Regions from separate parts of the Homo sapiens genome. Here regions 1, 3 and 4 are each linked to region 2. The links come from fine-mapping of genetic effects on gene expression. A gene starts in region 2. Each other region holds a variant in brackets. All regions are shown on one strand. Distances are between the middles of the regions. Region 1 holds the start of GSTM2 (glutathione S-transferase mu 2). Region 2 holds the start of GSTM5 (glutathione S-transferase mu 5). Region 3 holds the start of EPS8L3 (EPS8 signaling adaptor L3). Region 4 overlaps AMPD2 (adenosine monophosphate deaminase 2).

Region 1 (7,281 bases), 41 kb after region 2:
CCTCACACCAGGCCCTGTCACTCCTTGACTGCACAAACAGTCTCCTTTTCCACAGGGAGGCTCTTGGCTTGTCTGGGTATAGAGACACAGAAGGGACCTCCAGCAGAACAAAGGGGCTCTGAACACACTCACCCAATGTCTCAGTAAAACCTGGATGAAAGTGGAATGGGGAGTGGCAGTGCACAAGAAAATCAAAGGCGAGACTAGGCTCTAATCATTCCCCTTAAAGCAGAAAGTCCAAGGTTCTCCATCTGGTATCTTAGCAAAATCTCACTGTGCCCTAACCCATGGCATCTCCAGCCCTGCTGCAGATCAGGCTACATGACACTCAGATGTGCTGTGCACAATCTTACCAGGATTGAATGCCCAGATAAGGTATTCAAAAACATCCGGCTCACACCTGTAATCCCAGCACTTTGGAAGGCCGAGACGAGTGGATCACCTGAGGTCAAGAGTTGGAGACCAGCCTGGCCAACATGGTGAAAACCCATCTCTACTAAAAATACAAAAATTAGCTGGTCATGGTGGCGGGCACCTGTAATCCCAGCTACTTGGTAGGCTGAGGCAGAGAATTGCTTGAACCCAGGAAGCGGAGGTTGCAGTGAGCCAAGATCGCACCAATGCACTCCAGCCTGGGTGACAGGCTTGACCCTGGCACATAACGGGCCATAGCTCTCAGCTCTCCTCCATCCCTCCCTTCCCACCACCTCTTACCTAACTCCAAGGCCACTCAGCCTGGACCAGAACCGCAGAACCAGAGCTGATGGGAACTAGCTGAGCAAGCAGATCTCTTGATGGGGAGTGGAAAAGGGAAACAGATTCAAGGCTCAGAAGCCTGTTGGACAAATGCCTCAAATCCCCAAATCTGTAGTAATGTAGGATTTGCTGCTCTCAAACAAGTTCAGCACACACTTCACAGGCTGCTCTGCCTGCAGGCCTCTCACTGCACTCATTTCCAGGATGGGGCTGTCATCTATGCATCTCCCACTGTGCCTCACACCCTGCCTCATGCAGAGGAGAAGGTCAGTGAACAGGAGTAAAATCAGCGTGCTACTCATCTCACAGGGGGAACACCTGGAACATTGGAGGGAAAAAAAGAGAGGAAGAGGCCAGGCGCGGTGGCTCACGCTTGTAATCCCAGCACTTAGGGAGGCTGAGGTGGGTGGATCACCTGAGGTCAGGAGTTTGAGACCAGCCTGGCCAACATAGCAAAACCCCATCTCTACTAAAAATACAAAAATTAGCTGGACGTGGTGGTACACACCTGTAATCCCAGCTACTCAAGAGGCTGAGGCAGGAGAATCACTTGAACCCAGGAGACAGAGGTTGCAGTGAGCCGAGATTGCTCCACTGCACTCCGGCCTGGGTGACAGAGCAAGACTCCGTCTCAAAAAAAAAAAAAAAAAAAGAGGTAGAGAAGGAAAGTGCTCCAGCACAGGGCATTTCAGCATAAGCTCCTTCAACAGGGGCACCCACATATGTACCTTAATCCAGCTCCAGCCACAGCCCTGGCTCTCAGGATTCCCCACATGGGGGTTCAATCATACAAAGTTTCTGGGTGTAGCTGTGAATACTGCCTGTGGGTTCAGTATTGAACATCAATGCTACTGTGTGTCAGTCCTACTATTGCCAGCTGCATCCGTGGTCCTGAAGTGCTCTGCCTCTTCCAAAGTGTCCTGGGCTATGAAACCCAGGCTGGACAAGGCCTGAGGCTTTTCTTTTGTCACAAAACGGAGAGCCCTGACTGCCAACCATAGATCCAGAGGCTCGCAGGGAGCCCAGCACAGCCTCCACTGGCTCTGGGACCCTGAGCAAAGGACTGACCCTCTCATTCTCAGTTTCTTTGTCTCTAAAATGGGGGAGATAATTCTACCACCCTGTAGGAATGTTGTAAATTTCAAATTCAACACAATAGGTATAATGTGCTGGGTACAGTTCGTGGCATGAAGCCAGCACTCAATAAATGCAAGTTATTCTTTTCTTCTTTTTTTTGTTTGAGATGGAGTTTCACTCTTGTTGCCCAGGCTGGGGTGCAATGGCACGATCTTGGCTCACCGCAACCTCCGCCTCCCAGGTTCAAGAGATTCTCCTGCCTCAGCCTCCCTAGTAGCTGGGATTATAGGCATGTGCCACCACGCCCAGCTAATTTTGTATTTTTAGTAGAGACAGGGGTCTCACCATGTTGGTCAGGCTGGTCTCGAACTCCCGACCTCAGGTGATCCACCCAACTCGGCCTCCCAAAATGCTGGGATTACAAGTGTGAGCCACCATGCCCGGCTCCTTTTTTTTTTTTTTTTTTTTTTCTTGAGATGGAGTCACACTCTGTCATACAGGCTGGAATGCAGTGGCACGATCTTGGCTCACTGCAACTTCCACCTCCCAGGTTCAAGTGATTCTCCTGCCTCAGCCTCCCAAGTAGCTGGGATTACAGGTGCTCGCCACCACGCCCAGCTAATTTTTGTATTTTTTTTTAGTAAAGATGGGGTTTTGCCATGTTGGGCAGGCAGGTATCAAACTCCTAACCACAG[G/A]TGATCTGCCTCCCTCAGCCTCCAAAGCGCTGAGATTACAGGCGTGAGCCACCGCACATGGCCAAAAATGTGAGTTATTCTTTGTGTAGCTCCAGGACTGGGAAAGCATCACAAAGGAGGGAAAGGAATAAGAGACATAAAGAGAAAGGAGGCTGGGGGCATCACCTCAAATCGGGAGATGAAGTCCTTCAGGTTTGGGAAGGCATCCAGGCAGCTGGGCTCAAATACTTGGTTTCTCTCAAGGACATCATAAGCGATGAAATCCACAAAGGTGATCTGGATAAGGCCAAGGATATGTGGGCTGAAACCTCCATAATATAGGAAGTATGACAAATCTGTGGTGTCCCCATCACACGCCCCCATTACCTTGTCCCCAAGAAACCATGGCTGCTTCCCCAGAAACTGTGAGTAGAGCTTCAGCATTTCAGGGAGTGCCTGCAGGTATTCTGGTTTCAGTTTCTCCTGAGGCAGAAAACAGCTGTCAACACCCTCAGACACAAGCTCCCTGCACAGATGCGGCCTCCCAGTTTTGTGCATGGCCCCAGCTGGCCGCGGGCAAGCAGTCATCTTCCCCACAGCTGGAACTGGGTCACTGTCCAGGCTTCAGCTGGATACATCAGCATTTATTAGACTCCAACTGGGTAGCTGGAGTCTTTCTGAGGTGATGGGATGGCAGAGCGGAATGTGACACTGTCCCTAAATCTGTCCCCACTGACCTCCCAACAACCTCTGGGTCAGCCCCAGGAGCACCTGAGCACCTGGTAGGCTCTGGACCAGATATGAGCAGAATCAAGGATGCAAAGAACTAAAGGAGCTCAGAGAAAGAAGTAGAAATTTCCTCCTAGTTGGGCAGCAGTAGAATACAATGGACATTGAGTGGTTTCTGGAAAGATGAGGAGATATTCAGAGGATAAGTGGAAGAAAGGAGGGGGAAAAAGAGCCTCTGGCTGCCCCTAAGCTGTCTGTTAGGAAAATTCGCTGATCTCAGTGTATGTCAAGAGAGCACTCGGAAGACACCAAAATTTCAGGTGCCATTACTCCTTTGTTTTGCACTTGTTTTCCTCATAGTTTGTGTATTCCTAAAGCAGGCAGATGATATAAACCACTGGGAGAGATGGCCCAAAGCACAGGTCATGGGTCAGAGATGGAAGGGATTCTGGAAGTAACCATTACTGTCTAGAGAGTGAATTCATACCCTGGGGAGTCAGGATTCTATAAGTAGATTGGTGGGGAATTGATTTAGAGGTTTTATTTGACACGACTTTGGGGTTTGAGGGTCACTCTGGTGGCAGTATAGGAAATAGCTTGAAGGATGAGTAGCACTAAAGAGTTCAAACAGAAAACAGGACCCGTGTATTTGGCAGGACCACAGTCTTGGCTCCTGATCAAAATGAGAGGTGAAGCTGGCTGGGCTTCTGGGTCAGGTGAGGACTTGGAGAACTTTTCTGCCTAGCCAAAGGATTGTAAATGCACAAATCAGCGCTCTGTGTCTAGCTAAAGGTTTGTAAACGCACCAATCAGCACTCTGTAAAAACAGACCAATCAGCACTCTGTAAAACGGACCAATCAGCACTCTGTAAAATGGACCAATCAGCTCTCTGTAAAATGGACCAATCTGCATGTGGGTGGGGCCAAATAAGGGATTTCCCCCCCCACCTCCGCCCTTCCCAAGCAGCAGTAGCAACCTGCTCAGGTTGTCTTCCAGGCTGTGGAAGTGTATTTTCTTTCACTCGTCACCATAAATCCTGCTGTTGCTCACTCTTTGGGTTTGAACTACCTTTATGAGCTATAACATTCACTATGAAGGTCTGCAGCTTCACTCCTGAAGCCAGCCAGACCATGAACCCACCAAGAGGAATAAACAACTCCAGACGCGCCACCTTTAAGAGCTGTAGCACTCACTGCGAAGGTCTGCGGCTTCACCCCTGAAGTCAGCAAGACCACAAACCCACCGGAAGGAAGAAACTGCGGACACATCTGAACATCTGAAGGAACAAACTCCGGACACACCATCTTTAAGAACTGTAACACTCACCGTGTAGGACCGCGGCTTCATTCTTAGAGTCAGCAAGACCAAGAACTCACCAGAAGGAATCAATTTTGGACACAAACTCTGCAGGGAAAGGGGAGACTGGGAGTAGGGAAGGGGAGACTGGGAGTGGGGTGGGGGGACTTACAAAATCTGGGTCATAGCAGAGTTTGGCCAGCTGCATACGGCTGTCCATAAACTGGTTCTCCAAAATGTCTTCGCGAATCTGCTCCTTTTCTGATTCCCCGCCTACCCTCGTAAAGCAGATTCACTCTCAGCCTCACAGCCCAGCCAAGCCGAGGAGGAGGCCACGGTCCCTCCCCGCATCTTGCAACCAAATCTACTCACACAGGTTGTGCTTGCGGGCAATGTACCGCAGGATGGCGTTGCTCTGGGTGATCTTGTGAGTCCCATCAATCAAGTAGGGCAGCTGGATAGATGGGAAACCGGGGAAGCTCAGTTGGGCCACCAGGCTCCCCAGCATCCCCTTCCCATATGCAAGGGCAAAGAGGAGACCAGGGCCTGCTCATGGCAGGCCTGAGATAGAAATACTGTCACACTAATAAATGAGCTGGGACACAGAACATCATGCAAGGGCTGTGTAGACAGCCAAGAGTGAGAGGAATTGGGCAGAAGACTCCTGATCTTAACACCTCTAAGCTGGGGAGAGGAGATGCAGTCAGAGACACGTCGCACTTTCCCCCAAAACCGCCCCTTCCCCTGCACCTACATTGGGAAAGTCCAGGCCCAGCTTGAATTTTTCATTCAGCCACTGGCTTCTGTCATAATCAGGAGCTGTGGTGGGGAAGATGAAGTGAAAACAAACCTCCCCAAAGCCCAGCCCTCCTTCCTGGGGACCCTCCCAAGGAGCCAGTGGCAAGACCCCTGAGACAGGTGGATCTAGAATCTGACCACTCAGTCCCACATCCCAGGATTCAGAGAAAAAGAATTCCAGTGAGGGCTCTGGACCCCACACAGCTAAGGCTTCCAGGGTTTAGGCAAGCCCTGAGGGACACCCATCATAATTACCCAGACGGGGGCCCAGCATCCCGCCCCAGCATTCTGCCTTGCAAGGAGCTCCCTCACCAGGGCTCAGGGAAGGGACAGCCTGCAGTTCCAGCAAGGGAGGCCTGCAGAGTCAGCCACAGGTGGCCACTATCGGTTGCTTGGTGCCAACTTAGTGTGAGGGGGCAGGGCCCAGACTCGAGGGTGCCATTACCGTCCCCCATCGTGTACTTCTTTTCCTCGTAGCTTGAGTCTGTGTATTCCAGGAGCAGGCGGATGGAATGGGCCAGCTGGGAGAGATGGCCCACAGCTCGGGTCAGAGATGGAGGGTCCCTGACTTTGTGACGACTCTGCACAAGGGGAGCCCCATCTCCTCCTCTCGTTCCTGCCTCACCCGCCCCCACCCCGCACGCCCAGCCACACGCACAGACAGCGGCAAGCACAGACCCCGCTGTCAGGGACAGCCCTGAAGAGGAACCGTCCCTAGAGCCCGTCCTGCAGCTGCTCCACACTTCCCCGCCCCCACGCACCCCCGTCCCACCGCCCAGCGGACCCTGGCTCACCCCGCGGATGTTCCAGTACCCCAGTGTCATGGGCATGGTGCTGGTTGCTGTGGATTCTGCAGACAGGCCTCAGCGGGGCGGGGCTCAGCGTTTGTGAGAGGCCCAGAGAGGGTAGAGGGGAAGCCTTGCTGCGACCCCGCCCCACGGCCCGCCCTGCCCCCGAAACGGGCCAATCTGGAGGCCTGGAGCGCGCTCATGGGGCTAGGAGTAGGATCTCCTCCCACCTCCCAGCCCCGTGGGTTTCAGGAGAGAGATCAGGACGCCCAGAAGCCCAGGGCGGGGGAGAACTGGTTGAGTCCAGGGGTTCAAGACTGAACTGAGCTATGATCGCGCCGCTGCACTCTAGGTTAGGCAAGAAAGAAAGGCTCTCTCTAAAACAGAGAGATTCTGAATAAAGTAATAATAGCCTAATAAAGAAAAATAACACAAAAGAACATTTGGTGCTCAGGGATTCACTGGATAAGTTTTCAAAACTTTTCAATGTATGATAGAGATTGTTATAAACTGCGGACATACGTGGCATGACAGACCTAACGTGGGAAGGACAACACAGGCAAGGATGATTATAACTCACTGTCACTTATCAGCCTAAATCCAAACGTCAGGAATACCGCCTCAGAGAAAAGAAAATGATGTTTTTGTCATAAGTGGTGCTGTGCTCCTAGGGAGCTTGCTGGGTGGGAAGAGAGACAGAAAGGTGGGGAGCAGGGGCTGGTGGACTTGGGGAGGGAGGAGAAAGCCCATGTGGAAACGTTAGAATCTGGGGTAATCAGAGGTCTTTGTATTCATTCGTTTTGTAAATTTCTCAAACTCTCATGTTAAATCAAAATAAAAAGTTAAAAAAAAAAAACTACCAGGACAGACATACACAAATATTATTAACTGAAATAAATGTTCCATCAAAAAGGACTTACCTTAACTACATGAGTTATATTATGATTTCTATTATTATTATTATTATTATTTTAATATTAGTATCCATCCAGCACACCACTGGTCTTCAAGTGGAGGTAACTTTGCCCCTCAGGGGACATGTAGGTCTGTCTGGAGACTTTGTTAATTGTCACCACTGGGAAGCGCCCATGGCATCTAGTGGGTAGAGTTTGCGTAGGATGCTGAACACCCTGCAATGCTCAGGACAGTGCCCCACAACAAA
Region 2 (7,409 bases):
TTTTCAGGGAGTTCCTCCAAGTATTTTGGCTTCAGTTTCTCCTGAGGCAGAAAACAGCTGTCACCACCCTCAGACAAAAGCTCCCTGCACAGACGTGGCCTCCCCAGGGCTGTAGATGGCCCAGGCTGGCCACAGGCAAGCAGCCATCTTCCCCACAACTAAAACCGGGGCAGTGCCCAGGCTTCAATTGGATACATCAGCATTTATTAGACTCTGACTGGGTGCCAGACCCTATCTGAAGTGATCAGAATGAGATGCTCTTCCTGAATCTGTCCTCACTGGCCTCCCAATAGCCTCTGGGTCAGCCGCATGAGCGCCCGAGCACCTGGCAGCCTCTGGATCCAGACAGGGGCAGAATCAAGGATGCAAAGAACTAAAGGAGCTCAGGGAAAGAAGTAGAAAGTTCCTTCTAATGGGGTGACAGAAGAAAACAATGAACATTGACTAGTTTCCAGGGAGATGAGAAGTTCAAGTTGAAAGGAAGGAGGGAGAGGAATAAAGGCCCTCTGGCTGCCTCTGAGCTGTCTGTTATGAAAATGCGCAGATCCCGGTGCATGTCAATGACAGCACTTGGAAAACTTTGAGGAGAAGATGCAATTTGAGGGTGCCATTACATTCCTTGGTCTTGTACTTGAGTCTGTATATTCTAGGAGCAGGTAGGTGATATAAATCAACTGACAGAAATGACCCATGACAGAGGCCAGAGGCCAGAGGAGATGAAGGAGATTCTGAACACAAATTTTACCATCTAGGAATTGAATTTCCACCGTGGGATGCCTGGATCGTGTCCTAAGATTGGTGGGAATTGCCTCTGCTTTTGTTGACATGACATTGGAGTCGTGAGAATAACTGCTGATAGTATGGGAAAGCACTTGGAGGATGAGTGGTACCAAGGACTTAAGAAAAGACCAGTGCGTGCAGGAATGCAAGAGTCCTGGCCCCAAATCCAAACTCTGCCAGGTGCAGCTCACTGGGGAGACTCACAAACTCTGGGTGGTAGCAGATCATGACCAGTTGCATCCAGTTGTCCGTGGTCTGGTTCTCCAAAATGTCCACAAGAATCTTCAGAAGAGGAGAAGATTCGTGTGGACATTTTGGAGAACCAGGTTATAGACGTCTCCAGTCAGCTGGCCGGAGTCTGCTACAGACCTGACTTTGGAAGTCCCTCCCTGGTCTGGGCCAAAAGGCAGGGAAATGGGTGACTGGGAGTGGGGTGTGGGACTCACAAAATCTGGGTCATAGCACAGTCTGACCAGCTCCATGTGGTTATCCATAACCTGGTTCTCCAAAATGTCCACACGAATCTTCTCCTCTTCTGTCTCCCCACCTGCCACCCACAAAACACAGACTCAATCTCAGCATCACAGCCCAGCCAAGGAGGAGGTCACCTTCCCCCCGCACATTGCAGCCACCCACACTCACACAGGTTGTGCTTGCGGGCAATGTAGCGCAGGATGGCATTGCTCTGGGTGATCTTGTGAGCCCCATCAATCAAGTAGGGCAGCTGGATAGATGGGAAACCGGGGAAGCTCAGTTGGGCCACCAGGCTCCCCAGCATCCCCTTCCCATATGCAAGGGCAGAGAGGAGACCAGGGCCTGCTCATGGCAGGCCTGAGATAGAAATACTGTCACACTAATAAATGAGCTGGGACACAGAACATCATGCAAGGGCTGTGTAGACAGCCAAGAGTGAGAGGAATTGGGCAGAAGACTCCTGATCTTAACACCTCTAAGGTGGGGAGAGGAGATGCAGTCAGAGACACGTCGCACTTTCCCCCAAAACCGCCCCTTCCCCTGCACCTACATTGGGAAAGTCCAGGCCCAGCTTGAATTTTTCATTCAGCCACTGGCTTCTGTCATAGTCAGGAGCTGTGGTGGGGAAGAAGTGAAAACAAACCTCCCCAGAGCCCAGCCCTCCTTCCCGGGGACCCTCCCAAGGAGCCAGTGGCAAGATCCCTGAGACAGGTGGATCTAGAATCTGACCACTCAGTCCCACATCCCAGGGTTCAGGGAGAAAGAATCCCACTGAGGGCTCTGGACCCCACAACGGCTAAGGCTTCCAGGGTTTAGGGAAGCTCTGAGGGACACCCAACCCAATTAGACAGGGTGTCCAGCATCCCGCCCCAGCATTCTGCCTTGCAAGGCCAGAGGGCTCACTCACGGGAGCTCAGGGAAGGGACAGCCTGCAGCTCCAGCAGGGGAGGCCTGCAGAGGCAGCCACAGGTGGCCACCATGGGTTGCTTGGTGCCAACTCAGCGTGAGTGGGCAGGGCCCGGACACGAGGGTGCCATTACCGTCCCCCAGCGTGTACTTCTTTTCCACATAGCTTGAGTCTGTGTATTCCAGGAGCAAGCGGATGGCGTGGGCCAGCTGGGAGAGATGGCCCGCGGCTCGGGTCAGAGATGGAGGGTCCCTGACTTGGTGACTTTCTCTGCACCAGGCCAGCCCCTAGTCTATACTGCACGTACCCGTCGCCTCCTCTACCCGCCCCCACCCCCAAACACACACACAGCGTCATGCACAGGCCCTTCTGAGGCGGGCAGCCCTGAAGAGGAACGGTCCCTAGAGCCAGTCCTGCAGCTACTCCACACATCCCCGCCTCCGCCCCCTGTCCCACCCACCAGAGGACCCTCGCTTACCCCACGGATGTCCCAGTACCCCAGAGTCATGGGCATGGTGCTGGTTGGTGCGGATTCTGCAGACAGGCATCAGCGGAGCGGGGCTCAGACTTTGAGAGGCCCAGGAGGGGACAGGCGGGGCCTTGCTGCGACCCCGCCCCTCGGCCCGCCACAACCCCGAAACACGCCATTCTGTAGGCCCCCGAGCGAGCGCCCGGGGCTGGAATCAATAAGCCCCCTCCCGCCTCCCAGTCCCCAGGGTTCCGGGAGCGAGGTCAGGGCGCCCAGAAGCCCAAAGCGGGGCTCGGCCTCGCCAGCTTCCCCAACCCGCCCTGAGGCTCCATGAGTCCATCCAGCCCTTGCTAGGTCCACAGCGACTTGGCTGTGCGCTTGAGACACCAGCCAGATCCTAACGGAGCAAAGCTCTTCTCCCTTCTCCTCCCTGCCCGCAGAATCCCTCAGCCTTCTCTCCGCTGCCGAGTTCCCAAGGGCTCTGGGAGACTCCGGCTGCAGGGGTCAGACTAAAAAGTGGTGGTCCCAACCTGGGAATTTAATTCAGCCCCTGTCACTGTAAGAGCAGGACTTCCTCTGATCCGAAAGCTACTCCGAGGGCTTAGTCTCCCCTCTAGCCCCGCCTACACAGGAACAGTGTCAGTGGTATAGGAAGGACCCCCAGGAAAAGGGCCAGAGTAAAGGAAATGTGGTCTGTGTTTTCTGTTAGGGGCCTTTGGATACTGAGTCCTTCGGTCATCTGGCTAAGTACTATGTAAATTAGCCACTTCGTATTTTGGCACAATTTATGAATCGAAATCCAAGGATCAGATCCAGCAAGTTGGTGAGGTATCTGAGGTGCCCCCTAGAAATGTCCAGCCAGTCCACTAGGTGAACCTCACAGAGACCGGAACAGCAACAGCAACAGTGAGTGCAGTGGCCACAGAGAGCAGGCGAGGGAGGATGGAAGAACTTCCCGGACCAAACTGAGGGTCCGGCTGCTATTTCTCTAGGCCCAATAACGAGATGCAGATCAAATGGGGAGGAAGAGAGGTTTTATTTCTGCAACCAGTTACAGGGAGAAGGCCTGGAAATTACTACCAGACCAACTCAAAATTAAAGTTTTCCAGAGCATATATACCTTCTAAGGTATATGTCTACAAGTAAGTGTGCATTCATCTAAAGACATAAGTGATTAACTTCTTTAATCTGTAACTGAGGTCTGGGTCCTGAGGACCTTACTCTGGAGCCTCAGTCTATTTACTTAATCTAAATGGGTCCAGGTGCGGGGGATGATTGCCCTTATCTTGTCTCCTGCTAAATCATGGAGGTTTGGGGAGTTCCTTCAGATGCCCAGTAAACTTGTTTGTGGAGGCCTGGGGAGTTTCTTCAGACTCACAATAAAACTTGTTTAATTCTAAATAGGTCCTGTTAAGAATTCCTTCGTTGTTTTGTCATGCTTTAAGGCCCAGGAAAGGCCTAAGCAAAACTCTTGGTGGGCTTTTGTTACATCCAGCCTCTGTATAAAGGTACTGGCTTTTTTCAGCTTTTAATATTTAATTTCATCACTCAGTCAGTACTGAAACAGTTGTTATGGAGGCCTGTGTTAGTGACACCTGGTCTGCCACAGAACCTGTCCCTCAGAGAAGCCAGAACCCTGTCCTGCTGAGGAGGGAGGTCAGAGGATGGTGGCCAGAGAGGAGCCTGAGGGCTCCCCACAGGATCACAGGCAGGGACTCTCCCCTCTCCAGATCCACCATGCCGGACCTGGACCTGGCTCCTGACCCATGTGTGTTCTTCAGTATGAGACGGTGGCTCCAGTGGCCTTTGAAGTCACACCGTGATATGTGACCCATGGTACAACCTCCGCAAGAACAATGTCCAACCTGCCAACTTTCTTCTTTCAAGGTAGAAGGAAGACTTTCAAAAGAGTTGTGCAATGGATTAGCCTGGGGTTGACTGCTTTTTTTAAAGGATATTACAAATAATAATGGATATATGGAAATAGATGATAGACCTTTAATGAGAAATCATTTTGCAATGTAAACCAGGCTGTTGTGCTGCAAAAAAAGTAGTTTTTTGTTTTTTGTTTTTGTTTTTGTTTTTTTGTAAATTAGCTAAAACATTGTTAGGACTCCAGAGGATGAACCCAGTATATCAAAAAAGTTTCAAACCACCTGGATAATGTGTGGTTTGGGGTTGAGTAAACAGGTAGACTTCATCACATCCCTATTAGGCCACAGAAATCAGGTGGTCAGCAGGTGGCTGCTAAGTTGGGGCACTTGGACACTGTGTCACTGAGGCTGGCAAGGCACAGTCCTTGTTGCAAACACTCCCCACCCATCCAGACCTGGGCAGTACTCCCAGCTCAGATACCTGGCAGGTATCCATGTTTAGGAAGCAGTTTTGGCCTCACAGTGAATTCTCACATAGATTTTCCTGCATTGAGGCAATAGCACCAGCACAGACACAAGTGCCTGGCCCTAGGAATCATTATATTTCTCATTATGCATTAAGAGTTTATGATTTTGAGTTAATGGGTCTTGAGCTGTGAAAGATAAGATGTCTAGATCCAATTGATAAAAACGATTTTTTAAGAAAGCTAACACTCATGAGAATAATAATTTTGAAACACATAGAACCAGTACTGTTACATTAGTATTGTTTGAAATACTTGTTCCTTGGTTCCATAAAGAAATAGCACTTGAACATAAATTTAATTTCCTCAGCAAGGCTATCGGGGAAACTGCCCCCAGTATTTCAACATAGGTTCTATTTTCCATAAGTGTCAGCTGGCTGAGAAATAAAGAGAAAGAGTACAAAGAGAGGAATTTTACAGCTGGGCCGCCAGGGGTGACATCACATATCAGTAGGACCGTGATGCCGGCCCGAGCCTCAAAACCAGCAAGCTTTTATTAAGGATTGCAAAAGGGGAGGGGGTGTACGAACGGGGGGTAGGTACAAAGATCACATGCTTTAAGGGGCAAAAAACAGAACAGAGATCACATGCTTCTGAGGAAACAGGACAAGGGCAAAAGTAGAACTCCTGATAAGGGTCTATGTTCAGCAGTGCACGTATTGTCTTGATAAACATCTTAAACAACAGAACACAGGGTTCAAGAGCAGAGAACCAGTCTGACCACAGATTTGCCAGGGCCAGGTTTTTCCCCACCCTAGTAAGCCTGAGGGTACTGCAGGAGACCAGGGTGTACTTCAGTCCTTGTCTCAACTGCATAGGACAGACATTCCCAGAGCGGCCGTTTATAGACCTCCCCCCAGGAATGCATTCCTTTCCCAGAGTATTAATAGTAATATTCCTTGCTAGGAAAAGAATTTAGCAATATCTTCCCTACTTCCATGTCCATTTATAGGCTCCCTGCAAGAAGAAAAATATGGCTCTATTTTGCCTGACCCTGCACGCAGTCAGACCTTATGGTTGTCTTCTCTTGTTGCCTAAAAATCACTGTTATTCTGTTCTTCTTCAAGGTGCACTGATTTCATATTGTGCAAACACACATGTTTTACAATCAATTTGTACAGTTAACACAATTATCACAGTGGTCCTGAGGTGACATATATCCTCAGCTTATGAAGATAACAGGATTAAGAGATTAAAGTAAGACAGGCGTAAGAAATGTAAAAAGTAATAATTTGGGAACTGATAAATGTCCATATTAAAATGAAATATTTGCAATTTATGTTCCTCTGCCGCGGCTCCAGTCAGTCCCTCCATTCGGGGTCCCTGACTTCCCGCAACATCTCTCCCTTTCTTTTTATATAAATGTGCCATGGTGATGAAGGCTTATTCGTTCTCTCGGTTTTGACACAGGATTCTTTGGCTGGTCCGGCACACAGTATCCAGATTCCTTCTCGAGCTCCAACCAACATTACACTTTTCCTGGAGTCAAAACGGGAGTCAACACAAGTGTATAAATGACAATGCATTGGACAGTTTGATTGTTTGTCCAAATTTTGATATTTGCCACTAACAGCATGTAAGGAAGCTTAACACAACTCTGTATAGGAATAGTCAGGTTGGAGGTAAACAAAGCAGAATGCTTGAATCTATGTTGATACTGAGGGAGAGGAGCGGCGGTGGCAATGCCCGATGTTCTCCACCATAAAGAAGCAAACCGAGGTGCCTGGGGATGCTGAAGAAGTAGAGGGGCATACCTGGGTCGATAAGAATTATCGTAATGCCAATTGGAGTCCCGTAAAGGAGGATCGGCATCAAAAAGAGGAAAAAGGTTCAAAGGGGATTTATCATGGGGTTCAGAATCACAGATACTGGCAGTCCAGACATGACAATAGCCAATTTCGAAAGTTCTGGGTGTTCTGGGCTCAGAATGGGGAATATCATACAAGGCCTTGGGGGTGGAGGGTAATGTCCTTATCTTCCCATTTTAAGGTAAAGAATGAGCCGAACCACCTATGCAAAGTAGGATGATGATCCTCGTCCTCCCAATAAGAAATAAAATAAGTAGCCTCCAGGAATTCCCCTCCCCCAGAGGAGCAAGTGTTTTTTAAATAGCCCTTTGGTGCCCAGTCTATTACTAAAGCATATGAGTCATTTTTTAATACTACTGCATGTGAGTTAACACAATCTCCCCAAATTAAAGTTTTAGATGGGCCCTCAAAATTTTTAGGACATAGTTTTCCTACAGGTTTATATTGAAAGTATGGGGTATCTCCTATTACTCCCCTTTTCATTTGTCTTAAAGGACAAAGGGAGAGGCCGGAGACCAAATGTCCCCATTTTCCTGTAGCTAATCTCTCCAGAAGATAAGCAGCCCAGACTTG
Region 3 (7,854 bases), 50 kb before region 2:
ATCCCTGGGCCCCAGCAGCTGGCTGTCCACTGGACTCTCCCAGGGACACACACAGCCCAGACAGGGAAGGCACCTCCCTAGGATCTGACGCATGGACTCCAGGCCATCCAGGGCAGCGTTGGTTGGGTGGTGATGGGAGAGAAGGCTGAGATATCCTGGGATAGTTCCAGGGAAGCTAAAGATGGGAGTGCTCCAGCCCTCAGACTCCACAGGACACTCCATCACAGGGCCCAGCACCGGGACCCTGCATTCTGCCCACGAGGGTCCGAGGCTCACTGGCACTCCCCCGCCCCCGCCTCCCCTCCTGCCCTGCTCCCTGGTTTCTGTTTATACCTGGCCTTGTTGGTTAGACTGTGAGTTCCCAGAGGGCAGGGGAGCCTGGCCCACTCTGAGTGCCAAGAAAGATTTTTCGATACCATGGAGTGCAGGAAGTGGGTAGGTTTATGACTAGAGATAGATGCAGGCCTCCGTTTTCCATCTTTGCTGAAGCTGGCCAGGCGTCCACCAGGGGTCTGGGCACAAGATGGGGTACAGAAGGAAAGAGAGTGGAAGAGCGAGAAAGGGCTGGTAAGGGGGCTCCTGCTGGAAGGGACAACAGTAGGGACAGAATGAGGGCCCTGCCAGAGGGAATCTCAGCGCTCCATGTAATGCCCCAGGGGCCTCAGTCCCCATCTTCTGTGACAAGATCCATGTCCTGCTCACAGGCACCACCCAGGTACACAGGATCACACACCTATGGGTGCCACCCACGCACAGGCATGGCACACACGCCAGCCCACAGCTTCCCCCAAGCCTGGAGTCCACCTCCAGCCGACCTGTGCCCTCACCACAGAACCCAGACTCTGGGCCATGTGTGCTCTCTTCTTCTGGTCCCAGCCCCGTGCCTGATGCTGACCTGTTCCCCAGAGTAGGCACCTAAAAGGCAGAGGGAAGAGGGGGCCACACCCCAAGGCTAGCAGTGGGGGAAACAGGGAAGCAGGGGCCTCTAGCTAAGCTGGGGACGCCAGTCAGCACAGACACTGCCGCAGGTCCAGGTTGATGTTGAGCGGTTAGTGACCAGGAAGCCTCCCCACCCACCAGAGTCCAAAGAGCACAGGCGTGGCTGCCTCTGTAACCTCATCAAAGGCAGGCTCTGCCTGTGGCCACTAGCAGAGAAGCTGCTGTCCTTCCACCACCAGCACCGGACCACCTGCTCCAAGACCAGCCTCCTGGGGGGACCAGGCACCCGGCCTTCACTGGCACCCAGGTAAGGGCCTGGCCCCCAGGGAAGATCGGGGCCCAGCCCAGTCACAGGGGATCTCAGGGCAGGTGGGGGCAACTCAGTGGCTTCCCAGGCCAGGTCTCCAGCCTGTTCCCAGCTGCAGCCCAGGGGATCAAGCCCAAGGAGGGGCTTGGGACTCAGCAGCTGGCTGGTGGGCTGGAAAGCAGAGCGAGGTCCAGGCTCCGGAAGGGCCTCTGGGATGCTTGCCCCAGGGTCTATGAGGTGATGGCCTTCCCTGCTCCAAACCCCTACATCTAGGGCTTAAAGGGGGGAAATGGGCTGTCACAGCTCCCCTACCCCTAAGGGGCAAGGCAGGCCAAGCCAGCTCCCTCTTCCCTCCCTGGGGTAGGGAATCTTTGGCTGCAGCTGTTTCCCCACCTTGACCTACCTACCTAGAGGGCCCCACAGGGCCCACCCTGGTGTTGAGGGAGTGGGGAGTGGGGCTGACCAGGGGCAGACCTCACTTCCTCTTCTGCATGGAGAGCATGGAGAAGCAGGAAGTGTTACAATGGGGGTTGGGGGAGGCTGGGGAAGGGGAACAGGCTTCTAGCCCCGCCTTACCCCTGGAGAGAAAAGGGGTCCTCCCAAACAAGGAAACCAGAGATCCAGCCGTCCCTTCCACATTCCCTTAATTGTTCACTGGCAGTTTATTTCCTTCCACACTGAGTCATCTTATCAGATCCTACGTCATTTTCACAACAGTCCTAATAAACAAGGGTATGGGTTGCTCTCTCACATGTTACCCGGGGTAGTCCAGTATTTCTGCACAACTGAGGTGTACCATGTAGACATGTGGATACCCACAAACCTCATTTGGATAACACATACCCTTGACCCGCACAGACTAACACCACCCCCACCCGGGACACACACACCACATTTAATTCCACTCCATTTCAACATGTATGTTCTCTAGACTCCCTCTGTGACTGCGCACAGCCCAGCGGCAGAGGCATGTTTATAAACCATTAAAACACGAAGCTTGCAATCGGACAGATCTGGGTTGCTCTCTATTAAACGTTCATTTGTGACCTCAGGCCTGTTACCGTCTTTGAGCCTCAGAGTCCTCATATGGTAAATGGGGACAATACCAGTACCTGCCTTGTGAGGTTGTTTTGAGGATTAGAGTGACTGAAGGTAACGCCGTTAGAACAGTGCTAGGCACGTGGCGCCAAGTAAGTACAAGTGGACGGCAGTGAGGAGAAACTGATAGGATGTTGGTAAGGGGCTCAGCACCAGGCTCACAGCACCGTGGTGGCTATTGTGACTATTGTTGCTGGAGATAAATGTACAAGGTCCAGTGCAGCATTAGGAGGGTACCCTGGGCAGGGTGGGGTTGGATGGTCCAGGAGGGCTTCACCAAGAGGGTGATCTTTGAGCTAGAATTTAAAGGGTTGGGGTCAGGAGGGGACCTGGGCAGAGGATACAGAGTACAAAAAGCAAAGAGCCAGGAGGCCTAGGGAGACACTTGGGGGAGGTCAGCTCACTGGCGAGTCCTGCAGTGCCACCATAAGTACACACACACATGCATGCAGTCTTCCCAGAGGGTCTACAGCTGAAGAGCCAGCATCAGCGTCCTCTCAGTTTGCAGAACTGAAACAGGGTCGAACAAGAGGGCCTCCTCTGGCGGGGTCGGCTACAGAACCCTCTGCTCATCCAGCATCTTTCATACCCAGGCCCAAGATAGGATCTGAACGCAGGTCCCTGTCCATCCAGGTTTCCTGGGCTCCTTGGCATGAGCTTTATCAGCCAAACCATGGGAGGCCTGGAGCCTTCCCTGAGGCCCAGCCATGCTGTGGCCTCCCTGACCCTCCCTTCCCTCAGCCCGGGGCCTCCAGGCCCAGCCAGGATGGAGGGCTCCTCAGTGGAGGACGCTGGCTGCAGATGGCTCCGGAAAGGGCCCCTGGAGCCAGGGGCTTTGGGTCTGGTCCCAGAGGCCCCCAGTCAGAGCAATAGCAACTGTCCTGCCCTGCTGTGCCTGGTACACCTTTCCCCAGCTCTGATGGCTGCCTCTGGTTCACTTTGGGTTCTAGGGAGCCGTCCTCAGCAGCGTCAACATGTCAAGGCCCAGCAGCAGAGCCATTTACTGTAAGCTCCTGGCAGGCCCCTCTCCCGTGCCCTCCCACTGAGCCCCCAGAATGTCCCATCCTCCACTCCCCCTTCCTCACACCAACTGCCCCCAGCAGTTGCCTGAGTCTCACCTCGTTCTTCTGCCCACCTCCCGCCCCTTGCTCTGTGCCCTTGTAGTGCACCGGAAGGAGTACTCCCAGAACCTCACCTCAGAGCCCACCCTCCTGCAGCACAGGGTGGAGGTGAGTACCTCTGCAGCCCCCGGGCAGTGTCCAACTAAACCCAAGTGTTCCCATGTGCCCACCGCCCTGCCAGAACATGGACACTTCACACAAGTCCCTGCCCCAGAAGCCAACAGCCTGTCCCAACCATGTCGCATGGACTCAGATCCAACAAGCCTGCCAGAGCATCTGCTCAGTGTCAGGGACGGGGAGGGGTGGTCAGATTGAACAGAGCAGGCCTGGCTGGAGGTTGAGCGGGTGAGTGTCCTGTCCCCAGACAGGAAGAAGTAGCAGCAGGATGGGATAAGAAGCACCTACAACCACCCACCCACCTACCCTCCCCTGTCTCCCAACCCCCTGCTGCCCGAGTCCCCAGGGCACTGCTCCATTGCCCAAGACCTTGCATGGCTGGAGGCAGGAGTGTGTGGGATCTTTGGGATCTTTGGGCCCTGTGGGGGATTGAGAGGGCCACTGTTGGAGAGGGGAGGCACCTGGGCCCAAGCCTCCAGGGTGACTGTGAGCAGCTCCGAGGCTGCTCCAAGGCTAGAATGGAGTCTCTGGCTCTACCAGGGAGGATGATGCAGGCACTGCAAGATTTAGGTGCCTGAAGGGCTGTCGACACCAAGGTGAAGGCGAAGCACAGGCTACAAGGGCGTGGTGGGGAGAGCAGGCAGAGGGTCAGGCTGGAGCTCTGGGGTAGAAGCCATCCTGTCCTGGCCACCACTTGTTAGTGGCTCCAATGGAGAACAAGCAGGGAGGGAGCTGGGGCGATGGTCTGCAGGTCCCACAGGGCAGCAGGTCCCACAGGGCAGCAGAGGCAGAGCTCCCCTAGCCAGCCGAGGAGAGGCCAGGAGGACTCAGCTTCTCTGTAGGGTGGAGGCTGGGAAGAGGCTTCTTTTAGGCCCAGCAGGCAGAGCAAGAGGAGGATGGAGTTTGCTCATGATGCCAGAGTCCCCTGAATATGCTGGCAGTGCGAACACAGGGAGAAGAGCTGGGCCCTGGGCAGGGGGGTGGGGTCAAAGGGCAGGAGGCAGGCTGCATCTCCCTACCACAAGAAGCCTGGGTGGAAGGGGCCTTGTGAAGGTAATGTTTGGCTGGGAGAAGGGAGGGGGCTCCTAAAGGAGAGTGGATAACAGCAAAAAACTCCTGGATGGTCAGCCTAGCAGTAGGCAAGGACTTGAGCGGAGACTGAGATCACGATGGATATCTCCAGGCATGAACCAGGGAGAAGGAGACAGGAATGCTGGGTGAGTGAGGAGGAAGACTGGGCTGGGACTGAGTTCCCAAAAGGAACAAAGGAAGCCAGGGACAGAATCTGAGGGTCCTGTATCACCTCCAGAGGAGTTATTTGTTGGGTGGCTGGAGCCCACATCCTCCACCACCCAGCTGCCTCACCTGGCCTGGACTAGTAAAGGCCATGCCTGTCCTTCCTCCAGAGTCCTCAAACCCCTCCTGCAGCCCCTCAGACTCAGACTTGGAGGCCCTATCCCTGGCCCCAGTGCTTCGACACCGTCCCTCACATTGGCCCTGGAAAGTTGCTTTATCTGAAGCCTGGAACCTCCTACCTCAAGGGGGCCGAGGACACGTCTTCTTCCTCTTCTGCTTTTCTCTACCCAGCACGCCTGTGGTCCACCTCTCTGAGCTTTCTCCCAGTCCTAGGACTCCCCCTCTCCCTGCAGCACTTGAT[G/A]ACATGCAAGCAGGGGAGTCAGAGAGTCCAGGGGCCCGAGGATGCCTTGCAGAAGCTGTTCGAGATGGATGCACAGGGCCGGGTGTGGAGCCAAGACTTGATCCTGCAGGTCAGGGACGGCTGGCTGCAGCTGCTGGACATTGAGACCAAGGTCAGCCTTCCCAGCAAACCCAGTGATAGCCAGCCTGGGCTGTGGGGAAGCAAGCACTAGCTCTTGAACTCCACCCTCCATGCCCCAAAGGGCAGCCACTCTCCCCACATACAACACACACCCAAGCCTAGGAAGAGACAGGGGACAGAGGCTGGGGACAGAGGCACAAGAGTCAGGTAGATGACACCTCAGCCCTAGGCCACCAAAGGGCTAGGATGAGCTGGTCAGGAGCTCCCAGAAGCCACACCTAGCTCTGGTGGCCTCACAGTTGACCTCTCCACCTGGCCCAGGAGGAGCTGGACTCTTACCGCCTAGACAGCATCCAGGCCATGAATGTGGCGCTCAACACATGTTCCTACAACTCCATCCTGTCCATCACCGTGCAGGAGCCGGGCCTGCCAGGCACTAGCACTCTGCTCTTCCAGTGCCAGGAAGTGGGGGTGAGTGGTCGGGGGTGATTGGTCAGGGGTGGGGTTCATCGACCATCACCCCACCACACACACACACACACACACACACACACACACACACACTTAGCCTGCCTGACTGCTGCTTCCCAGGCAGAGCGACTGAAGACCAGCCTGCAGAAGGCTCTGGAGGAAGAGCTGGAGCAAAGGTAGGCAGCCTCTGCCCAGCCCACCTATGGGGCCTCCCAGCTCAGCCTCGGGGGCCAGACCCTGACCCCATATCTTGGGGCACCCAGGAGGTTGTGGCCCAACCAACCTGGGCCTGGACTGAGGAGGAGCCAGGACAGAGGTGGGCATAGGCAAGGGGCTGGGCCCAGAGGGCACTAGAGACTGTCCTCAGAGACTGAGATGGGACCCAAGAGGGCCCAGAGGGTAGGCAGATGAGGCAGGGTGGAGTCAGGGGTGGGTCCAGAAGGAGACCAGGGAGCAGGGGGTGGGACTCCTGGAGAGAGGTGGTGGTGCCCCTGGGTCCTGGAGCAGAATTGTGGGGAGGGCCTCTCTCCAAAGAACCTTGTCAAAGATGTGGCCCCTACCATGTCCTCAGCAGACCTCGACTTGGAGGCCTTCAGCCAGGCCAGGACAGATGGAGGGGGCCTGCTATGGAAAGGCCGCTCCCTATGGAGCAGGCACGCTATCTGGAGCCGGGGATCCCTCCAGAACAGCCCCACCAGAGGACCCTAGAGCACAGTAAGTTTGGGGCATGGGGGCAGGTGAAGGAGAGGGTTTCGATGAAAAGTCAAAGATCTAAGATCTAGGTCCATGGTCCCCTTACACTGCAGGCCTCCCACCATCCCCAAGGCCCCTGCCACGCCACACCAGTGCCCGAGAACCAAGTGCCTTTACTCTGCCTCCTCCAAGGCGGTCCTCTTCCCCCGAGGACCCAGAGAGGGACGAGGTAACTGCGGATGGTCTTGAGTTTGCTGAGGCTTTCTGGGCCTGGGAAAAGGAAGGACACCAACCCTCCCTCTTTTTCTAGGAGGCCAGGGTCCCAGGATGGCCAGGGCCTGGGCCAGGAGGCCAGAGAGGCTTGTTTATACTCCAGGCTGGGCCTGAGGCTGGGGCTTGTGGTGGGGAGGGGTGCGGGGGGCAGTGTGGGGAGTTCCAGGGTGGGCCCAACTGCCCGTTCAAGGCCATGGGTTGTTTGGGGCCCAGGAAGTGCTGAACCATGTCCTAAGGGACATTGAGCTGTTCATGGGAAAGCTGGAGAAGGCCCAGGCAAAGACCAGCAGGAAGAAGAAATTTGGGAAAAAAAACAAGGACCAGGGAGGTGAGTACTGAGGGCCAGGGAAGAGGAGTAGGGGTGTCTCAGGGTGATCTCTGGCCCACCGTCTTGGCCCCTTCTCCCAGGTCTCACCCAGGCACAGTACATTGACTGCTTCCAGAAGATCAAGCACAGCTTCAACCTCCTGGTAGGTGGCTCCCCACAAGTTCACCAGGCCTCTCCTCTTCCCCTTCCTCCCCAGTAATCCTCTGCTGTCTGGACTCAACCATCCCAAGCCTTTTTCTTCTTCATCTACTCCCCCTAGAACCTCCCCTCCCCTCTTGGGACTTTTGGGAAGTGCCAGCCTTCCAGCCAAGGCATAAAACAATTATGGTGACCTGGTGAAGATGGGGTGGGGTGAAGGGTGGTGACAGGCATTGCTCTGTGTCCCCAGGGAAGGCTGGCCACCTGGCTGAAGGAGACAAGTGCCCCTGAGCTCGTACACATCCTCTTCAAGTCCCTGAACTTCGTGAGTCAAGGGACGACAGGGTGGTGAAGACGGACAGGCTGAAGTCAAGAAGGAGTAGAGAGAGGAAAGGAGCTGGTGGAGGGGGATGGGGGAGCAGGGGCCAGGGTGGAACCAGATGAGCTGGGGTCAGAGCCAAGGACGCCAAGGCTCTAAGGGAGACAGGAAGGAGCAGCAGGCCCAAGGCAGATGGGGCCCCTTGCAGGAGGTAACATCCTACCATTGCAAAAGTGGGAAGCCAGGGACTCTGGGCCTTTCCCACCCTCACTG
Region 4 (7,939 bases), 76 kb after region 2:
CAGAGACTGCAAGCCAGCCTGTGCTCTGCTGGCCAAGCTGTGCTCCCCATCAGGAGGCTGTGTCTACCCAAGGAAGGGACATCTTTTTCTAAACCCACAAAGGCACTTTCTGGGCAGAAGGGCTCTGCTCAAGTGCACATGGGTGCAGAGGAGAAGGAGGCCCAGGGCTGACCCAGACTCTTCGAAACCCTGGTTCCAATATATTGCTCATCAAGCCACTTCTGGTTGACTTTTTAAAAAAAATCCTGTGCTTGTTGTTTTCAGTCTTTATTGTAAGCTGATAAGTAGCTTATCAGCTCCTGTGTGCTGGGTTAGAGGGAGTTGGTTTCTATGGGCAGTCACATTTGCATGAGGGAACGGAGTGAGGGCCTGACCAGTGGCCTCCTGAACACCAGCTGCTGGTCCATCTTGCATCTGTCCACCCAGGGCTTTCGATGAACACCATGGAGAAGCCTCTCCTCCTCTCGCCCCTCCTCCTTCCACCTTGCCCCAGCACCTGCTTCTCTCCCAACCAACTTCCATCCTGACTCCAGGCTCTGAGGAAAGAGCTGCAAGGAAAGGCGAGGCACCTGCAGCAGGTATTGGCCTCCTGGCCTGCTGGGGAGAAGGAAGAGGTGGGTAGAGAGAGGGAGGCAGCGAGGAAGCCATCAGGAAGGCAGGAGGACCAGCTAGGAGCAGGCTCACCCACGCTACGAGGCAAGGAATATTCCCCAACAAGGGAGCAGTTGGTGGGCCGCTGGGTATTGTCCCAGGTTCCCCTGCTACCCTGTGACAAAACCCGAAGGCCGCTTATCTCAGCCGTATCCTGGCTGGATGTCGCTGTGTCTCAGCTGATGTGAGATTCAGATGCTCTGAGACAGCCTGGTCATGCAGGATTCTGGAGGTTGCCAGTCCACTGGAGAAGATACGCCATAATGGCTCCACTTGGAATCTGGAGTCAGATGGGCCTGGGGCTGAGTCCTGGCTCTACCTGATGACCGCTGAGTGACCAGAGCTGATTACTTAATTTCTTTGTGCATTAGGATAACCATCTGTGAAATACGGATAACGCTAATACATACTACACAGTGCTGCTGTGAGGGTTTAAAAAGAACAGTTATTCAGGGAAAGAAATGAGATAAATGGGAGTTAGCTGATGGGGCCAGGAGTAGAAGAGCAGGAGCAGGGGCGAAAGAGGCTGAGATGAGGGTGGGGCGCCAAGCCTCCACAGCTGCCCAGGAGGTGCACTGGGATTCAGAGCCAGCAGGGGCTCTCCCAGAGGGTGCGCAGGCCCAAGGTGGTAGGAAAAGTGAGAGGAGGGAGCTCAGCGGAGTTAAACAGACACACATGAGGCCAGGCGCAGTGGCTCATGCCTGTAATCCCAGCACTTTGGGAGGCCAAGGCGGGCGAATCACCTGAGGTCAGGAGTTCGAGACCAGCCTGGCCAACATGGTGAAACCCCATCTCTACTAAAAATACAAAAATTAGCCAAGCGTGGTGGTGGGCACCTGTAATCCCAGCTACTTTGGGAGGCTGAAGCAGGAGAATCGCTTGAACCCAGGAGGCAGAGGTTGCAGTGAGCCGAGATCATGCCACCGCACTCCAGCCTGGGCGACAAGAGCGAGACTCCGTCTCAAAAAATAAAAACATAAATAAATAAATAAATAAATAAACAAACACATGGGCACTTGCCTTTGAAAGTCTTGGCCAGGCACGGTGGCTCACGCCTGTAATCTCAGCACTTTGGGAGGCTGAGGCAGGCAGATCACCTGAGGTTGGGAGTTCGAGACCAGCCTGACCAACAGGGAGAAACCCATGTCTACTAAAAATACAAAATTAACTGAGCGTGGTGGCGCATGCCTGTAATCCCAGCTACTTGGGAGGCTGAGGCAGGAGAATCGCTTGAACCCGGGAGGCAGAGGTTGCGGTGAGCAGAGATCGCGCCATTGCCCTCCAGCCTGGGCAACAAGAGTAAAACTCTATCTCAAAAATAAATAAATAAATAAAAAACCAGTCTTAGTGACCCCATCAAGGCCCAGGCCTCACACCCTGTTCCACCCTCGCCATCCCCACCTCAGCTTCACGGTCACCTGGAGCCATCCTCCCACCCCCAATTAGCCCCCTGGCCAGGCTCTGACTCAAATCTCCAGCAGGTCCCAAAGGGAGCTCAAAATAAGAGCACTGGGCTGGGAGTCCAGCACCAGGTCCTCACTCCACTCTCCACCTCCTATCCCTGTGACCAGGCAAAGTATGGGACTCTCTGACTTTCAGTACCATTATCCATTATGGACTTGTAACATTTTATAACTTTTGTTTAGCTCACACCTGGTTCCAAAAGGATTTGAGGCTGCTGGGAGGAATAATCACACTCTTGACCAACTCAAAAGGCTGTTGCAAAAACCAAATGTGGAAAATTATAAAGCACAAAGCAAGCATGGTATTATTGCTATTTTCTCCAAAAAGGAATTAGCCCACCCTTCTCTGTCCCCGCAGTGGAGTTTCTGACCTAGCTCCATAGTTGTTCAAGTCCCCTGTCGTTGAACTCTGCCTTATAAACAGCATTTAATCTCCATAGCAAACCAATACACGTGGACCCCGATATCCTCATTTGATAGATCAGAGAACTAAAGCTCAGAGTTCCTAGAAATTTTCAGGATCTTATGGCTAATAAGTGACAGCTGTGCCGTGGGATAGAGCCCGGGGATCACAAACCCAGTACCTCTCTGGCAGTGTATGGACTGGGATGGGTATAAGGTAACCGGGAGGGGTCAGGCTAATAGCCGCCTCAGAGCATTCACATTCTCGATCTCATATCAGGCTGTGCCAGCCAATCACAATCCTGTGGCCACCTCTGCCACCTCTGTCTTAACTACTGGTCTTAGCAGCCTCCCCACAAAAGCTCCTCTCCACCCACACTGCCACCAGCCAGGTCCTTGTCAATCACACCCGGGATGTGGCAGGAGCCTCCTCCATGACCCTTCTGCCTCTAGACTCACCCGCACTGATCCTTCTGCTCATCAGAGCCTGACCCTGTCCCTTCCCTGAGCACCCCACCCCTAGAGGGACCCCCTCAACCAGACACGTACCCCAGGGACCATGATAGAGTAGGAGGAACAAAGACTTTGCAGCCTGACAGTTCTGGGGTCAAATCCCAGCTCTGGCACTCATTAGCTGAGTCATCCTGGATAAGTTACATAACCTCCCGAACCTCATTCTCCCTGTTGACGCGAGGGAATATGGTGATAGATATCATGCAGAGTTCTAGGAGCTGGAAGTACATTCACACTTACAAAGAGTTCAGCCCAATGCCAGGTGCTCATAGGTATTTTACCCCACCATGGCAAATGCGTAGTAGACACACCAGCATACCCCAGCAGTAGCTTGGGACCCTGGTGGGAATGGATTGGTAGCCACTCCCCTTTGCATATCTCCTCCAGGCCTGGGAAGTCAGGGAGGAGGGCTGACTTGCCCAGCTAATAAACAGAACACTCAGGTTTAAACCCAGGTCAGTCTCTCATCTGCAAAGGGGAGACAGAAATTCCAGCTGTGCATATCTGTTGCACAGATTCAGAGAAGATGCCAGTGGCAGCAGTAGCTGCTCCAAATCTGCCCAGACTATTTAGGGAGGCAGGAGAGTTGAAGGTGACGGCAAGACCAAAATCTGAGCCAACCCCCCTGGCCCAGAGTGGGACTGCGGGGCTGAGCCATTTTAAGTAAGTCCTTTATAGACCCTGCATCTGATTCTTGGAGGCCCCACACTCACTTGCATTTAAAATGCACCCACACCCCCTCATTAAATATAACTGCTTTGCTTTAAAGGGGTTTTTATAAATTTGCTTTTGAAATTACTTGACTATGAGTAACTCATTTAATTTACTATTGGCTATGCTTTCTCTTTAATCATATTGCATATTCTGGAACTCTTGTCAAAAATCCAACTTACAAATTGTTTTCAAATATAATGGCATGTGACTTAACAAATATTGAAGTTGACATGCTACTTTCTGAAGGCATTTCATTAAACATTTGTCAATTTCAACTTTTTTTTTTTTCCATATTTTGCAGCCCTCAGAGGTTTTCTTTCAGCTCTCCCATGTTGCCAGGGGGTGGGGGTGACATTGAGGGTCTGCCGGGAGAAGACAGGTATGCGCACAAAAGCAAGGCACTTAGATCGCCCCCATTTCTAGACTTGCAGGCTGCCTGCTTCAGGCCCAGCTGCGGAAACCACCCACCCCAGGTTGCCCAGGGCATCCTAATTTGGGCAGTTTCACTCTCATTTTGAAAATATAGTGATTTCTCAAACATTGGATTAAACCTGAGTTAAGGCTTAAGCCTTTATTGGAATTTCATATGAATACATTCATAAGTGAGGCAATACTTTGATAGGGTAAATGTTCTGATGTAGGGTTTAGAAATCAGGATTATTGTCACCCTAACCAAACACCCTTACCCATCCTCTACCGCAGCCTGGGGGCCCAGATAGCTCCCCACTTGCTCCCCTCCAC[T/C]CCCCCAGGAGTGGACACGGAGAGGGGACCCCGTGCAGGGCATGTGAGATGTGGCCTGGCACACAGCCCTCATACTTCCCAGTCTGAGAGCTTTAGGGACAGATGAGGGACAGTCCCCCAGGGTCGACTTCACTCAGGACAGGTCCCAAACCTTGGAAGGAGACAGGTTGGGTTGCCTATTTTATTTACTCCCTCTGCCACCCACCCTCCTTCCCCCTCACCCCCCCATTCCATGTGAGATCTGGCCCCTGACCAGGAAGAAGATGCGGGCACCTTCACACACGCAGGCACACACAGCAGGTCGAGAGGAAGGGCAGGGGGTGGGGCTCCAAAAGAGGAGAGGAGGTGGCGGGCTGGCATGGAAGGTGCAGGCAAGGTCGAGGGCAAGGAAATGACTTTTTATTTCTGCTCACATACTTTGATTCATTTCTATCAAGAACAGTAAAAAAAATTCTACCTTGGACCTGGTGATTTCACTCAGGGCATCTAGACTAAGGGAATAATCTGGAGAGATTTAGGCAAAGATAATAATAGCTAAGATTTACTGAGTTCTTGCTTGGTGCTTTATATCCAGTGGCTGAATGAATTCAAAATCAACCCGTGAGAAAAGTGCTATTATTATCCCCATGAAATGGGTGAGGACCTGGAGGCACAGCGAGGGGAAGTAACTTGCCTAAGGTCACACAGCCTGAAAGTGGTGGAAACAGAAGTCAAACCCAGAGTGCACACTGTTGGTCACATTAGGACACAGTCATTCTTAACAGAGGAGAGCTGTAATCATAAACCATGGGAGGCTCACCGGGGGTGGTGCACAGTAGTTCACATTCATATTTGCAGAGTATTTTGATGACATGTGGAAAGACGTATGTTAAAATACTTTTTAAAATAGGCCGGGGTCAGGCACGGTGGCTCACACCTGTAATCCCAGCACTTTGGGAGGCTGACGTGGATCACCTGAGGTCAGGAGTTCGAGACCAGCCTGACCAACATGGTGAAACCCCATCTCTACTAAAAATACAAAAAATTAGCCAGGTGTGGTGTCACGCAACTGTAATTCCAGCTACTTGGGAAGCTGAGGCAGAAGAATCACTTGAACCCAGGAGGCAAAAGTTACAGTGAGCCAAGATTGCACCACTGCACTCCAGCCTGGGCGACAGAGTGAGACTCCATCTCAAAAATAATAATAATAATAAAAAATTTTAAAAAGCCTAAATCATTCTTGTGATCTCAACTTAAAAATAGCATTTTAAAAAGAACTGAAAAGAATACAGAAATATGCACAGATATGCATTAAAATATCTACATATATCTCAGGCATGCAGCAAATATTTGGTGAAACTGGTAGATTATGAGTGGGCTTTTATTTCTTCCTATTTTTCTATATTTTCCAAATTTTTTTTAATGAAAATGATTTTCTTTTCAAATAGGAAGAAGTATTAAGGCCTTTTAAGATTATTTTCTCTTGATAAATATTTGAAAGAGAAATTTCTGAGAAACTAAGAAACCAGAGGCAAGTTGTTTAAAAAATAAATTGTGGGTTGGGTGCGGTGGCTCACGCCTGTAATCCCAGCACTTTGAACCCAGGAGTTCAGGATCAGCCTGCACAGCATGGTGAAACCCCGTCTACAGGTGGCACGTGCCTGTAGTCCCAGCTACTCATGAGGCTGGGGTGGGAGGATCACTTGAGCCCAGGAGGTCACTGCAGCCTGGACAATAGAGCAAGACCTCGTTTCAAAAATAAACCGTGAAGAGGCTGCTAAGGAACTTTAAATTAGTAATATTCTTAGAGCTAAGCCTCAACACACACTAAGAAAAACAGGAGACAAGAAAGTGAACTGAAGGATTCTATTAAATGACAAATTCAACAAGTAAATATGGAGTCCTAAGTGCTGGCAGACAGGACAGGCAGTTCTTGCCTCCAAAAGACCTTCTAGAAAAATCTTTTAATCCTGCTTCCTTGTTAAAACAAAGACAAGACACAGCTCACTTGTGTTATTAAATTATTCACCTACTTGAAAAGTGAGTTCCCCTCACCCTTCTAAGGGGGATCCTTGGGCAGCCGAGGCCCAGCATGGGTGAAGGAGCCCTGGACTCACCACCTCCCACCCTCATCGGGCTCCAACGTTCAATTCTGTGACATGTAAGTGGCCAGGATGAATTGGCAAGGGGTGTCTTCTGAACTGAAGGGCCTTGGGTCTTGACCAGGAGAGGGCTTGGCCAATGGGAAGTGGAGAGGGATGAGGAGAGCTTCTTCCCGGGGCACCCACTGGGAGACCCAGGGCCAGGTGCAGACCTGCTTGCTGAAAGAGGCTGGGGTGGGGGAGAGCAGCTGACAAGAAAGGAGGAGGAAGCCAGCAGCCTCCCAGCCTCCCCCTCCTGCTCCAGCTGCTCTGGCTCTGGGCAGGCCCTCAATTAAACAGGCTCATGCTGTTCCAGGGCTAATTGCTTCTGAGGCAGCCAGCCAGGGGAGGACAGGCCTCCCCAGCCAGCAGCAGGGGCAGCGACAGGCTTCTCTCTGCCCACCCAGGACCCTGCACAGCCCAGGGCACATTCCACTTTCCTTCTTTACCTGGGGAACAGACTTCAGCAACCTCTGTGCCAGGGAGGTGCTCCAGAAATTGTGTATTAAACATGGGACAGAGGCTGAGATGGGATTGGGGCGGGGGCGGGGGGCTGGAATCGGAATGCACAGGCTTGTTCCAACCTCTTGCAATAGAATCTGCCCGAGAGTTTGCAGATGTCTGTGCCACACCTTCTGCCTATTGAATCAGAATCTCTGAGAGTATGGCCTGGAGAGGGCCATCTAAACAAGACCCCCCCAGAAGACCCTGGTCTCAGGTTTGTCTGTAGGTGCATATTTCCCATCTACCAGGCCATCCCCTCAGAGGCTGGAAGAGGGGAGGAAGTACAAGGTGGGAAACAGACACCAGCCCCCAAGCTGGTGTGACAGGGATGTGTCACAGACCCGGGGCTAGGTGTTCCCCTCACAGGGAACAGGCTGGATGAGGGTTGGATGGGCATCTCCTCTCTCCCACAGCTTCTTTTGTCAGTTTCCACATGCACAACATACACATCACCCAAGCCTAGTCCCTCCCCTCAGAATGCACGGTGCCTCCATCCACAGCCACCTCCCACCACGGCGTTCCCTCTCCCAACAGAAACCCCACCTGCCTCATTACTTAAATAATCTTTATTTCTCATGCACTAGGAAAGATGGTTCGTATGAAACACTGCAGTTCACAGCAAAGGCCTCAGTCCAGAACACAACATAGGGGCCAGCTGGGATCACAATCTGGTCAAAGCTCTGGGAGCCACACTGGGAACACCACTCCCGGGGTTGAGTGGCAGATCCAGGACTTTGCAGCAACTGTGGCCCCAGACATAACACAAGGCAGCTGCCCTCTCCCACAGAGGCACAGGAAGCTGACACCCAAGGAGCACGTGGGCTGGGGACA

The links. PIP is the estimated chance that this variant, and not a neighbour inherited with it, causes the effect.
Region 1: its variant is fine-mapped to the expression of GSTM5 in tibial nerve (GTEx, PIP above 0.99). The same link has a PIP of 0.9 or more in lung.
Region 3: its variant is fine-mapped to the expression of GSTM5 in whole blood (TOPMed, PIP above 0.99).
Region 4: its variant is fine-mapped to the expression of GSTM5 in subcutaneous fat (FUSION, PIP 0.93).

The regions. Positions count from the first base shown.
Region 1 is chr1:109,666,996-109,674,276 of GRCh38, reverse strand. GSTM2 (glutathione S-transferase mu 2) reads right to left here and starts at 6,220. Exons shown (of 8, transcript NM_000848.4): 1 at 6,126-6,220; 2 at 5,777-5,852; 3 at 5,288-5,352; 4 at 4,906-4,987; 5 at 4,706-4,806; 6 at 2,895-2,990; 7 at 2,694-2,804. The coding sequence starts at 6,161. It also overlaps a transcript of GSTM4 not described here. RefSeq lists an enhancer at 4,354-4,453 and a silencer at 5,969-6,138. The variant G/A (reference allele first, on the strand shown) is at 2,529.
Region 2 is chr1:109,707,579-109,714,987 of GRCh38, reverse strand. It overlaps GSTM5 (glutathione S-transferase mu 5), which reads right to left and starts at 2,737. Exons shown (of 8, transcript NM_000851.4): 1 at 2,640-2,737; 2 at 2,295-2,370; 3 at 1,805-1,869; 4 at 1,423-1,504; 5 at 1,227-1,327; 6 at 1-41. The coding sequence starts at 2,675.
Region 3 is chr1:109,757,214-109,765,067 of GRCh38, reverse strand. EPS8L3 (EPS8 signaling adaptor L3) reads left to right here and starts at 1,145. Exons shown (of 19, transcript NM_133181.4): 1 at 1,145-1,246; 2 at 3,295-3,349; 3 at 3,509-3,573; 4 at 5,232-5,390; 5 at 5,681-5,830; 6 at 5,951-6,006; 7 at 6,405-6,544; 8 at 6,637-6,752; 9 at 7,010-7,124; 10 at 7,205-7,266; 11 at 7,513-7,587. The coding sequence starts at 3,319. LOC124904258 (a long non-coding RNA gene) reads right to left here and starts at 5,203. Exons shown (of 2, transcript XR_007066303.1): 1 at 5,118-5,203. RefSeq lists an enhancer at 3,773-4,502. The variant G/A (reference allele first, on the strand shown) is at 5,240.
Region 4 is chr1:109,631,772-109,639,710 of GRCh38, reverse strand. It overlaps AMPD2 (adenosine monophosphate deaminase 2), which reads right to left. Exons shown (of 19, transcript NM_001368809.2): 19 at 7,660-7,939. Among named protein-coding and RNA genes, the nearest start is that of AMPD2, 16 kb to the right of the region's middle. The variant T/C (reference allele first, on the strand shown) is at 4,485.